Linked DNA regions of Homo sapiens. The protein of the gene in region 2 interacts with the protein of the main gene of each other region in a pairwise test. Each region holds a gene or a part of one and is shown on either strand. Other genes may lie near its edges.

Region 1 (3,340 bases), on a different chromosome or scaffold from region 2:
TCCTCAGTAGCCCTTTCACCCAACTCTCCCTGGCTACTCCGTTTGAATGAACACACCACCTCTCTCCTGCCAAGATGCACTCCCTGAACTCCCTCACGCAGCCCCATCCATTCTCTCTCTCAACCACTCCCTTCTCACCATCGCCCTCCCACCCTCCTACTCCCCTCTCCCCTCGTCTGCTGCCTCTGTCCCTGCTCCAGCCTTGTCCCTGGTCTCCCAGCCCCCAGTAGCCAGGAGGAACGTCTCATAAAATAAATCAGGTGATATCAACCGCCTGCCTCCTTCCCCCACTTAAATCCCTTGCAAAGCTCCCCTTTACTCTTAGGATATATTCCAAGCTCCCTAGAGTGGCTGATAAAGTCTCTTATGATTTGTCCTCAAGTTCACTCCCCACGCACCCCATACCTCGTTCATGATAACCATTTCCAGGGCTCTGAAAAAGCCATTATCTCCCAACTCTGCACACCTTTACACAGGCTGTGTCCTTTGGCACAACACACACACACACACCCCTCCTCCTGTAGGATCTGAGAAAATTACTTGCTTTATTTAGGAAACCCCATCAACCCCAGCTCTTTGGCTCAGGCAAATGAACGTCTCTCTTTTGTGTTCCCAGGATGCCCATAAAGAGAAACAGTTTGTGGCTCATGCATGGGGGCGTGGCTAGTGGAAGCCCCTGACTGAAGCAGGAAGGCGTGGCTGAAGCACGACTGATAAGTGGGGGTGTGATTAGTGGAAGAGCTAGGCTGATGAATGGGGGCGTGGTTAGTGGAAACCCGTAATTGACGGATGCGGGCGTAGCAAGTGGAGGAGCTTGGCTGATGAATGGGGGCGTGGTTAGTGGAAACCCACGACTGACGAATGGGGGCATGGAGAGTGGAGGTGCGTGGCTTGTGGAAGCCCATGACTGATGGATGGGGGTGTGGCTAGTGGAAGAGCTAGGCTGACGGATGGGGGCGTGGCTAGTGGAAGCTCATTACTGATGGGGGCGTGGCGAGTGGAAGAGCTTGGCGGCTGGACCCCGGCGCTGCTGCTATATGTGGGTGTGTCCCGCAGACGACCGCGGGCCGCAAAAACCCAGATTACTTGGTTTAACAGTTGCCCAAATCTCAGTCAGAGACCTTATTAGCCCCCTCCTCCTGAATCCCAGCTTCCCACGGGACTGTTTTTCAGGCAGAATTTCAAAGTTTTATGGCAACTTTTACAGAAATCACAGAAAAGAGACAGCGACTGATGATGAGCTGGGGGAGAGAAGGGTAGTGGGTAACGGGTCTGGGATGTTGGGGCTGAGCACAACAGGACGATAGAATGCTGAAAACCTGTGGGAAGCAGAAAGTTATGGGGGTAGTTGGGTCATCCTAGGGGCCCAAGGAGTGGGTGGCACTGCCCAAATGTGTCCTTTGGGCAGGAAACATCAACAGTAAGAAAATGCAGATGGCCTACCGACAGATGGAAGGCCTCCAAAGTTAAAAATGCCCACCCAGATCCCTTGGCCCAGTCCCATCCCCCCACCCATCCCCACCCCCCATCAGGCAGAGATGTGGCAGCATTTGCTGGCTTGTAGCATTGGTCCTCTGGGACCCTCGGTCTCCTCTTCGAGGGTCCTGCCCGGATTGGCTGGCACTGAGGGCAAAAGGAACCTTCCAGATTGTCAGGGGAGATCAACTGGACTCGCTTTGATTCCCGGCCTCCTCCCCAAAGCTGGTTCTCATGGCTGAGGGAGTCTGCTGCCCTCTCAAAAGTTGTCTGTCACCCCCTTTTCCCAAGACATGCACCCTCCCGCGTCCCCCCTCCCCCAAACACACTATATACACACACAAGCCCCTCCCTCCAAGGCGTGGCTGGGCTCTCAGAGGTAGTGGAGGGCGAGTGGGGGAGCTGGAATGTCTGAAGTTGCAGGTTCAAAATGTGCTTCCTCCGGCTAAGCCCTGGGACTGAAACCCCAAACTTCTCCCCTCGTCTCCGAGCCTGGAGAATGAGTGTCCTCCCAAGAACCCGAGTGGAGGGATTGGAAGGAACGGTGTGCGGCCTCCTTGCGCGCACACCCACCCGCTCCTCCCCGCCGGGGCTGAGCGGAGCTCCCTGAGGGCTGGGGGGAAGGGCTGGGAGCTGAGACGGCCTCTGACAGCCTCCTTCGAGGGTCCCCCAGGGAGGGTGGGTTCTGAGGCTCTGGGACATGGGGTGAAGTGGGGGGGGGGTCACTAGGGGAAGGGAGACTTTGGGGGCAAAGCCAGGCTGGGTGACCAAGGAGAGAGACCTTAAACTCCCCAGGATGGTTACTGGGGGTGGTTCCCTGGGGAGGGGACTGGGGTGGAAATTTCCCCAGGGATATAGACGGTCACCAACAGGATGGGCTGGAGTTGGGGTCACCGCAGGGGAGGAACCGGGGAGGCTCCCGAGAGGAAGAGGGAAGGCTGAGCTACTGGGGACACAGAACAGGGCAATCAAAGCCAGGGGAGGGGGCGGAGAAGGGAGGCCGAGTCCCAGGAGAGGAGGCCGAGTCTGGGGGGAAAAGGAGACCAGGGTCCAAGAGCAGGTGCAGCCGAGTCCCTAGCCCCGGGCGGGCGGTGGGGACGAGTCTCTGCGCGAGGCCCTAGAAGCCCCGGATGTGGCAGTACGCCTCCAGGCTGGCGAAGAGGATGTACAGGAGCCAGAGGCCCAGGAAGAGCGCGGTGGTGGCGAGCTTGGGTCCGCGCGGGCCGCCCAGCTCGCCGCCGATGTGCGGCCGGCGCCGGTACAGCAGCACGGCAATGCCCACGAAGGCGAAGACGGTGAAGAGCGTGACGGAGAAGGCCAGCGTGCCAGTGCGCACCTCGAAGGGGCGGCCCTGCACCGCCCAGTACACGGCGGCCACAGACCAGGCGACGCCCAGGCCAAGGAACACGTTCACCGCGTTGGAGCCGGTCACGTTGCCGATGGACGCGTCGGCGCACTGGTCCTGCAGCGCCGCCACCTTGCTGGCGAACGTGTCTGCGAGGCAGAGACATACAGGTCGGAGGGGCTTTGCGCCGCCACCCACAGGGGCGGGCATCCGCCTGCCCCCTCCCAGCCTTTCCCGGTCGCCTGCTTTCTGCGGGCAGTGTGGGCTCAAGACCCCTGACCCCCACCCAAGAGGCAAAGTCCATCACCACCTTTAGGCCTGCTCGCCACTGGAACCGCTGCCGGCTTTCTATGGGACCTGCCGCCTGCTTTCTGTGGGATTCATTCTCTTCTATGGGACTCACTGCGTGATTTCTTTTTTTTTCCTCCGAGACGGAGTTTTGCTCTGTCACCCAGGCTGGAGTGCAGTGGCGTGATCTCAGCTCACTGCAACTTCCGCCTCCCAGGTTCAAGCGATTCT
Region 2 (3,651 bases):
CCTGTTGGCCAGGCTGATCTTGAACTCCTGGGCTTAAGCAATCTGCCTGCATAGGCCTCCCAAAGTGCTGAGATTACAGGGGTGTGCCACCACACCTGGCCCAAATTATTTGGTTTTAAACACTTGTTAGATTCCTAAGTGAATGGTAGGTATGGTAGAGAACTCCTCTGCCATTCTCCTATTGCAATCCACACCCACACATATCTCCACCTCCCCTAATACACATAAAAGCACACTACATATACAAGTTTTGTTTTGAGTATAGTTTTTTTCTTGTGGCTAAGTAATAAACCACTTTAAACTGATGTGTCTAGGAGGACGGCCATGATCTATCCAAATTTTCTTCTCTCCTATCTGGCATTTCCTACCATTTCATTTGTCCTTCGACTTTATGAGATTTATTATTAGGCCATAAAGATGTCATAATCCTGGAATAGAAAGGGAAAAGTCATCAACTACAACAGTTCCCAGAACATTCTCACTCACGGCAATATTAAACATCATAAAACTTCCTTTCTCACAATAGACCTTGGAAGCTGGGTGCTATCCTCAAGCTTTAGGCCAACAAATTAAAATAGAAAGAGGAGTTGAATGAAAATTAGAAAAAGTATAGTTTTTACTCAAGAAGTACCTCATATTTTTCTACACAAACCCAAATCTTCCCCAAAATCCCACGATTCCCTTCAGATTATGCTAACGCTCAAGCTGTACAGGAGAAAGAACTGTGGTAGAAAAGAAAAATAAAGCAAAAGAGAAGCTGGGAGAGAAAAATTATAAAATTCAATCATAATCTATTGAGAATAAAATTTAAAATTAACTACGAAAAAATTAAAAATAAAAACACTGAAAAAGGTTAAACATCTTACTGGAAAATGGTGAATGCTACATCATAAATCTATAAGAAGGTATTATACATAGTTAAAGAAAGGAAAAATAGCCAAGAAATAAAATAAGAAAGTAACAAGTGAAGGAATGGCAAAATTTAGAAATATGAAAGTAGACAAGATGTCAAAAAATTTTTAAAAGTCTTGAGGTCAGAGGCAAAATTTTGGAAGGGGATTTGGAGAAAGTTTGAACAAATGTAATGTACTTGTAATGTCCTTCACCAATCTAACATACTTCATGATTTTAAGAACATAAAATTTAACCTATATAACTTTTTGGTCATTAAAGTCATCATGCTAGGCAAATTAAAAAGTATAGTTGTCTCAGATTACTGCAATTTAAAAAATTTTAATTAACTACCAATTGCAGAACTTACTGACAGTTTATGAGAAACAAAAGAAGCTATACATTTCATTATATAACAAATGATGTTTACGGGTTTTTATTTTTTCCTGTCTAGTGGATTAAAAAAAGAAAAAATTTTTCAGATGCCAAGGAGCGGAAAGGAAAAGAAAACACTCACTGGATAAAGCTTGTGCTTCATACAGGTTGGTCTAATCAGCAAATATAAACATGAAGCATTGAGACCAAGGGTCTGGTGGCTACTGACCAGGTATATATGTTTAGGATAGTCTCTGAGCTTCAAATTTCATCTTTAAAATGAGGGAGTTGGATTAGAACATTATCTATGTCTGATTTAACATGATTGTTCAAAAGCTACTGTAAGCTGGGCGTGGTGGCTCACGCCTGTAATCCCAGAACTTTGGGACGCAGAGGTGGGCAGATCACAAGGTCAGGAGATCAAGACCATCCTGGCCAACATGGTGAAAGCCCATCTCTACTAAAAATACAAAAAAAATTAGCCGGGTGTGGTGACACGCACCCGTAGTCCCAGTTACTTGGGAGGCTGAGGCAGAATAGCTTGAACCCCTGAAGCAGAGGTTGCAGTGAGCTGAGATCGTGCCACTGCACTCCAGCCTGGTGACAGAGCAAGACTCCGTCTCAAAAAAAAAAAAAAAAAAAAAGCTACTGTAGTGGATGCTGTGGTTTTCCACCCAGACAGCTCCCTCCAAAGTCCTTCAAGAATGAAGCACTGATTCCTCCAGCTGCTGGGGCTATTGGTTGACAGTGCTTAGCTGCATCCCTCTCTAGGAATTGCCCTTGACCAAAGAGATCCACCCAACTCAAGGTTATACCCCATCCTGGGAGCAGGCTTGCATCCAATGTCTTACATCTAATGACTGGTCCATAAAGAGATGTAAAGGCTGAGCCCTCTTGCCTCAATTTGGGATATGGCTGCATGGCCATCCCAGCCCTAAAGCTCCTAATGGTGTCAGCTGAGGTCTCTGTGGCAATTGCATCACAGTTCAACTTCTCCCTTTGCCCGCCCAATCCTGCTTTCTTCTTTCCTTAATAGGTTGAACCTGAGAGCACAACCCAATAAACTTGATGCCCCAATAAATCTACATCTCAGGGCCTGTTTTTGCAGGAACCCAACGTAGGAGAAACCCTAAATACCTCTTACTTTTGTGAAAACATCAGTGCCTCCTGGAGACACACTTTTATTTTGAGATTTGGACTGTAGTTCTTGTTCTCAGTAATCAGGAATTATGAAGCCAGCAATATTGTCCAATAATTATTTTTATAAACCATTCTAAAATTATTTCAGAGTAATAAGGATTAGGTAGAAATATAGAAATGCTACATATTAAGATGTTCATTCACTATTTTAACAGTAAAAATGTATATTATACTGTAATTTTAAAAAATAAATGAGTGAATTTTTTAAGCCTTTGATTCTCTAAGAAAAATAAATGCTAGCACTAATAACTGAAAAATAGAGAAAGCTACTAGGATGGGGAAAAGTTAAGCAAAAATACAGAAAGTAAAAGATTTTACTAATAATAAGAGGCAAAAAACAAAGCACTCTTAAGGAGGAGCTGATTAAATTAAAAAGTGAAATACAAATGAAAGAAAGTATTACATTTGTACAAACTCAGAATTACGGAAAAAGAAAATTAAAATAAGTACATAATAAATGCCATTGCTCAAAATGCTTATATCTCATTAAATTAACCAAAGTTTTTATAATCTTTCCTGAATTTGATATTCTTTTCTTTTAAGGTGTTCTTTCAAGAACTTTGGTGTTTTTATTTTTCTTTCCCCAATTTCCTTTTTCTGTCCTATTGTTTTTCCCTCTAGTGTATACAGATTTCTACATGTCCAGTACATTTCCAGTGAGATAAGCCAATACACTTCTCTGTCATTGAGGTACCTCTCTTGTCCGCTTTATACTTTTGTCTCTTTCTTGCATAAGTCAATTTCTTCTGATAAAAAAAAAAAAAGAAAAAAAGAAATTTGAAACTGACCTTGAAGAGGCAGTTTGGTAAATAGACACATATTCTCTAACATGAGTTCAACTGGCTCCTTCACAATTCAAAAATGAATTGTCTACCAAACAAAGTAGATGTTTCAGAGATACGCCAAGCTTGGCAACAGGAGAAATCATGGACGCTGCTAAAGCAGCAACAGCTGATTTCATAGTCATGGAATGATCCTGCACCTGATCCCTGTCAAGATAACAGAGGGTCTTATTTACTGTCTCCAGCTTTGGTCCGTCTAAGTAGGTACTGTTTTCTGTTTACTTATCCCCCAGCTTTAGGCCTGGAACAATGTTGAACATAGTGTCACAGGCCCTGGTGCCAGACAGGATCAGGGGCTGCGGAATATTTACAGTTTCCCTTCTTCTGCTTCCATAAATGAAAT
Region 3 (3,651 bases), on a different chromosome or scaffold from region 2:
ATTGATTTCTACACAAATCGGACCTCTCAGCATCTACGGTGCTTTAGTAACAGGCCTTTATGAGACTGGACAAGGAATGGGATGGTCTCCAAAGGCCCCAGCACATGGTACAGGCCCTGCCACATAGAAGATGCCCAGTGAGAATGGAACGAATGATGGGTGAGTCAACACACCAATAAGGGAAGGAACATTGTCTGGGCAAGAGCATGCCGATTTCCTGAACCACGTACACATGCAGAAGCTTCCTTCTGGGTATCCCTCGCCCCCTGCTGTCCCTTCTCTCTGAGACCTCCTTCCAGGATCAGGGCACTCACCCATGTTATCAGCCAGACCTGGCAAGTTTCACTCATCGTCAGCATTTCCTTAACAAGGCCTTTTCAAAAAACACAGTCACGAAAGCCCTGCTGCATGCAAACATTACGCACTCCCTGCTGGCTTCATCTTTCTCCCATTTAGAAAACGAGCAAGACAGGTTGGAGAAAAAAGCTCAAATTAAGACACACACAACTGGCTCCAGGAAGTAATGATTCCCTCAACCATCATTTGCCTCCCTCTTGCACAGCCTCCATGTGGGTTTCTACAGGCCCCCAACTGCCTGGGGACTGCAGCAGAAGCTGCCATGCCCTTTGGGGGACCTCTCCAACTGTGTCAGAGTCCTAATTTTAATTCTTCCACTTGCACATGAAGCTGAAAGTTGTTTCCCAAGTATCCCAGCTTGGGCAAGGCCTCCTGGCATCACGTCTGAGCTCCTAGCAACCTGTGAATCTCTCTCCGTCTCCCCCACCCCAATCCTCAAGAAAAAGGTGTTCTGATTAGAGCAGGGTGTCCTCCGGGTCTTGCCCTTGTGCTCCCACAGACCCCGAGCCCTGAGCTAGGGTGTGAGGTGGTAGGAAAAGGACTTGGCACTCCCTCCCCCATCTCCCACTCAGAGACCTCTAGGGCAGTGTGTCCCCACCAAACTCCAGCCACCCCCGCTCCTCTGCACACATCACACACGTCCCTTGATTGTTCCTGCCCTCGGGTCGCCATGGTGACAGGCACTAACAGCGCTGATGCTATTTCCTAGAATGGACAGACACCGTCCCCCACCCTGAAGACAGCCTTCCCTGAGCTGCCCTCGATGGCCTCCCTCCTCCTGCTCTAGCAGGAGGAAGAAGCCTCGGGGAGAAAAGGCCAAGGAAGGGACTGGGTTCTGGGAGTGGAGGAGGCAGGTGAGGAGCAGGGATCTGTGAGCAGGAGCCAGGCCTACCTGCCCACCTGTGCAGAGGCCTGAGCCTGCTCAGGGGTGCTGCAGGGGACTGAAGGGATGCAGCCCAGGCAAGAGAACAGGGCATGATGGCCGCAGGCCCAGAGCCTGGGAGTCAGGAGGCCTGGGTTCCAGGGCCTGCTCTGCCTGTAAGGCCCTGCCAGCTCTGGGCCTTGGTGTCCTCAAGACACTGGTCACATTAAAATCTCTCAGGCTACTCTTCTCCTGGGGGGTGGGGGGAGCTGTATAGAGAAAAATGGCTGAGGAACACCAGTAAAAATAAATGAAGTGCAAGGACAGGGGATGGAGAGCTTGAGAGGGCAGAGAGCACAGAACCACGAGGACTGGTGGCCTGAGGCAGCTTCCTGAAGAGGCAGCGGACACCCTGGTGTGGGAAGGATGCTCCCTGAACATTCCTGCATGGAGAACAGCCTTGCAAAGGCTCAGGGACAGGACCATTGTCAGGGAAGAGGAGTCTGGATGTGACTGAGCTGGAAAGTCCCCGGAGGTCCGTGGCAGGGGCAGCCGTGGTCAGAGCAGCGTGAGGTGGGCGCATGAAGGAAGGAGGAGTGAATGAAGGAGTGGCAAGCAGGGCGGGGGATGGTGTGGAACAGGAAAACTCATGGATTCAATGGCAGATTAGGGAGGACAGAGGGCAGGGCCTATTCTCTGGGTACCGTGGGTCCCTCCAGAAAGGCCTGTTGCATGTTTTCCCAGGGGTGAAGGGGATCCCAGCCCCCTTCCCAACCCCAATGCTGCCCCTCATTACAATCCCACGTGGTGAGAGGCAGAAGCACAACCAGAAATGTTCCAGCAAAAAAAAAGACACAATGGTTCTTGGCAAACTTTTTTGGCTAGAACATTTCCAGCTGGGCTCCAGGCACATCCGCCGTCCACCCTTTCCTTGGCTGGCCTCTGGCCCCCCTGCCCCACTGTACTTGGCTCTCCTCTGAGCCCTCCTCTTCATCGTCATGTGACAGAGCACCAGCAGGCTCCCCCCAGCCAGCCCCCTACCCTCTTGATCCCCTCCCCACCTTGAGGCCCAGGACTCACCATTTCCCTCAGGCCCTCGGGCTGCCCGGGACTGGGTGTGAACTTATGTCCCCATGTGGTCTTAAGAGAACAGTGCCATGACCTCCAGTGGTGTGCATGATAGTGGTAGAGGGTGGTGTTTGGCCACATGCGGTGGAGGCTTCCATTAAGGGAGGAGAGTTATGCAGAGGAGGGGAGGACCATAACCCCCTACGGCATCTTAACAGCACCGGGGCAGAAGGTCCTGTGCCCAGGAAGAGGGTTACCCAGTGGGCCTTGCCCCTTGCTCAGCAGTGCGTTCCAAGTACCATGTTAGAAGAGGGGTCAAGGTCTCCCACCCCCGTGCCACAGGTCCAGGGTGGGTGATGGCGGTTCTTACCCCAGCCTATGCTCACGTAGAGCCTGAAGATCCATTGCTCAGATAAGACCGAGAAGGCCAGCAGTGTGTACAGGTACACGCCCTCCACCAAGAGCCAGTAGTAATTGGCCGCCACACAGTACTGCATGAGCAGAAACACCAGGCGGCAGCTCAGAGAGTCCTGGGGGTAGAGGAAGGGTGTCATGGGGACAACAGCTCTGCCCTCTGCCTCTCTTGATACCACTCCCCGTCCTGCTCCAGCCACTATCCTGCCATGGTTAATGCAGGAGGAGAGAGCTCACATCTCTGGCTAGGGCTAGTGCTAAGGACTTTATCTGCTTTAGCTCATTGAATCCTCACTATCCTGATTGGAAGAAAGTAATGTATCCCCCTGCAGGTGAGAAGTAAGTGACTTCTCACCTATTTCTCAGCCTCAGAGAAGTAAGTGACTTGCCTAAAAGTGTACAGATAGTAAGTGACAGAGCTGACATTCAAACTCAAGTGTGTCTCCAAAGACTACTCTTTTGTGTCAGACTGAGAATTCCCTAGGGCAGTGTCTCCTCCCTTAGATTGGGAGCTCCCTAAGGTAGACTGCCTCTCTCAGCAGACTGGAGGGTCCCAAGGCGAACTGCCTCTCCCATCAGACTGGGGGCTCCCGAAGGGCCAGGACTGTTCGGCTCTTGTCTTCTCCTGTCCCAGGCCTGTCTAGGGTGGCAGAGGCAGGCCTCCTCCAACCGCCCATCCCTCCTGAGGCGGTCCTGGATGCACCACACACCTGGTAGGAGAGGAGCCCATCCCACTGGTGCTGCTGGGCGGCTGTGCTATACATCCACTTCAGGGCTGCGTCCTTGATGAAGACGGACAATGCTCGCAGGATGAAGGATGCAAACAGGTTCAGGTGGATGTAGTTCCTGGTGCAGTGCAGGTGTCTGAGGGAGAAAGCAGGGCCTTTCCCTGGCAAGGCAGCCAACAGTTCTGCTCTACAACCCCAGGCTCTCAAGCTAACACACACATT

Evidence for each region.
Region 1: the proteins of GPR37 (region 2) and SLC8A2 interact in a two-hybrid assay, tested with the Homo sapiens proteins (one large-scale study listed by BioGRID and IntAct).
Region 3: the proteins of GPR37 (region 2) and GLP1R interact in a protein complementation assay, tested with the Homo sapiens proteins (one study listed by BioGRID).

What each region holds. Positions count from the first base shown.
Region 1 is NC_000019.10:47,427,496-47,430,835, forward strand, and holds the end of SLC8A2 (sodium/calcium exchanger 2 precursor), read right to left. Parts: intron 2,971-3,340; coding exon 2,594-2,970; 3' UTR 522-2,593; downstream 1-521. UniProt on the Homo sapiens protein: Mediates the electrogenic exchange of Ca(2+) against Na(+) ions across the cell membrane, and thereby contributes to the regulation of cytoplasmic Ca(2+) levels and Ca(2+)-dependent cellular processes.
Region 2 is NC_000007.14:124,759,266-124,762,916, forward strand, and holds part of GPR37 (prosaposin receptor GPR37 precursor), read right to left. Parts: intron 1-3,651.
Region 3 is NC_000006.12:39,072,776-39,076,426, reverse strand, and holds part of GLP1R (glucagon-like peptide 1 receptor precursor), read right to left. Parts: intron 3,566-3,651; coding exon 3,412-3,565; intron 2,818-3,411; coding exon 2,658-2,817; intron 2,114-2,657; exon of another isoform or gene 2,046-2,113; intron 1-2,045.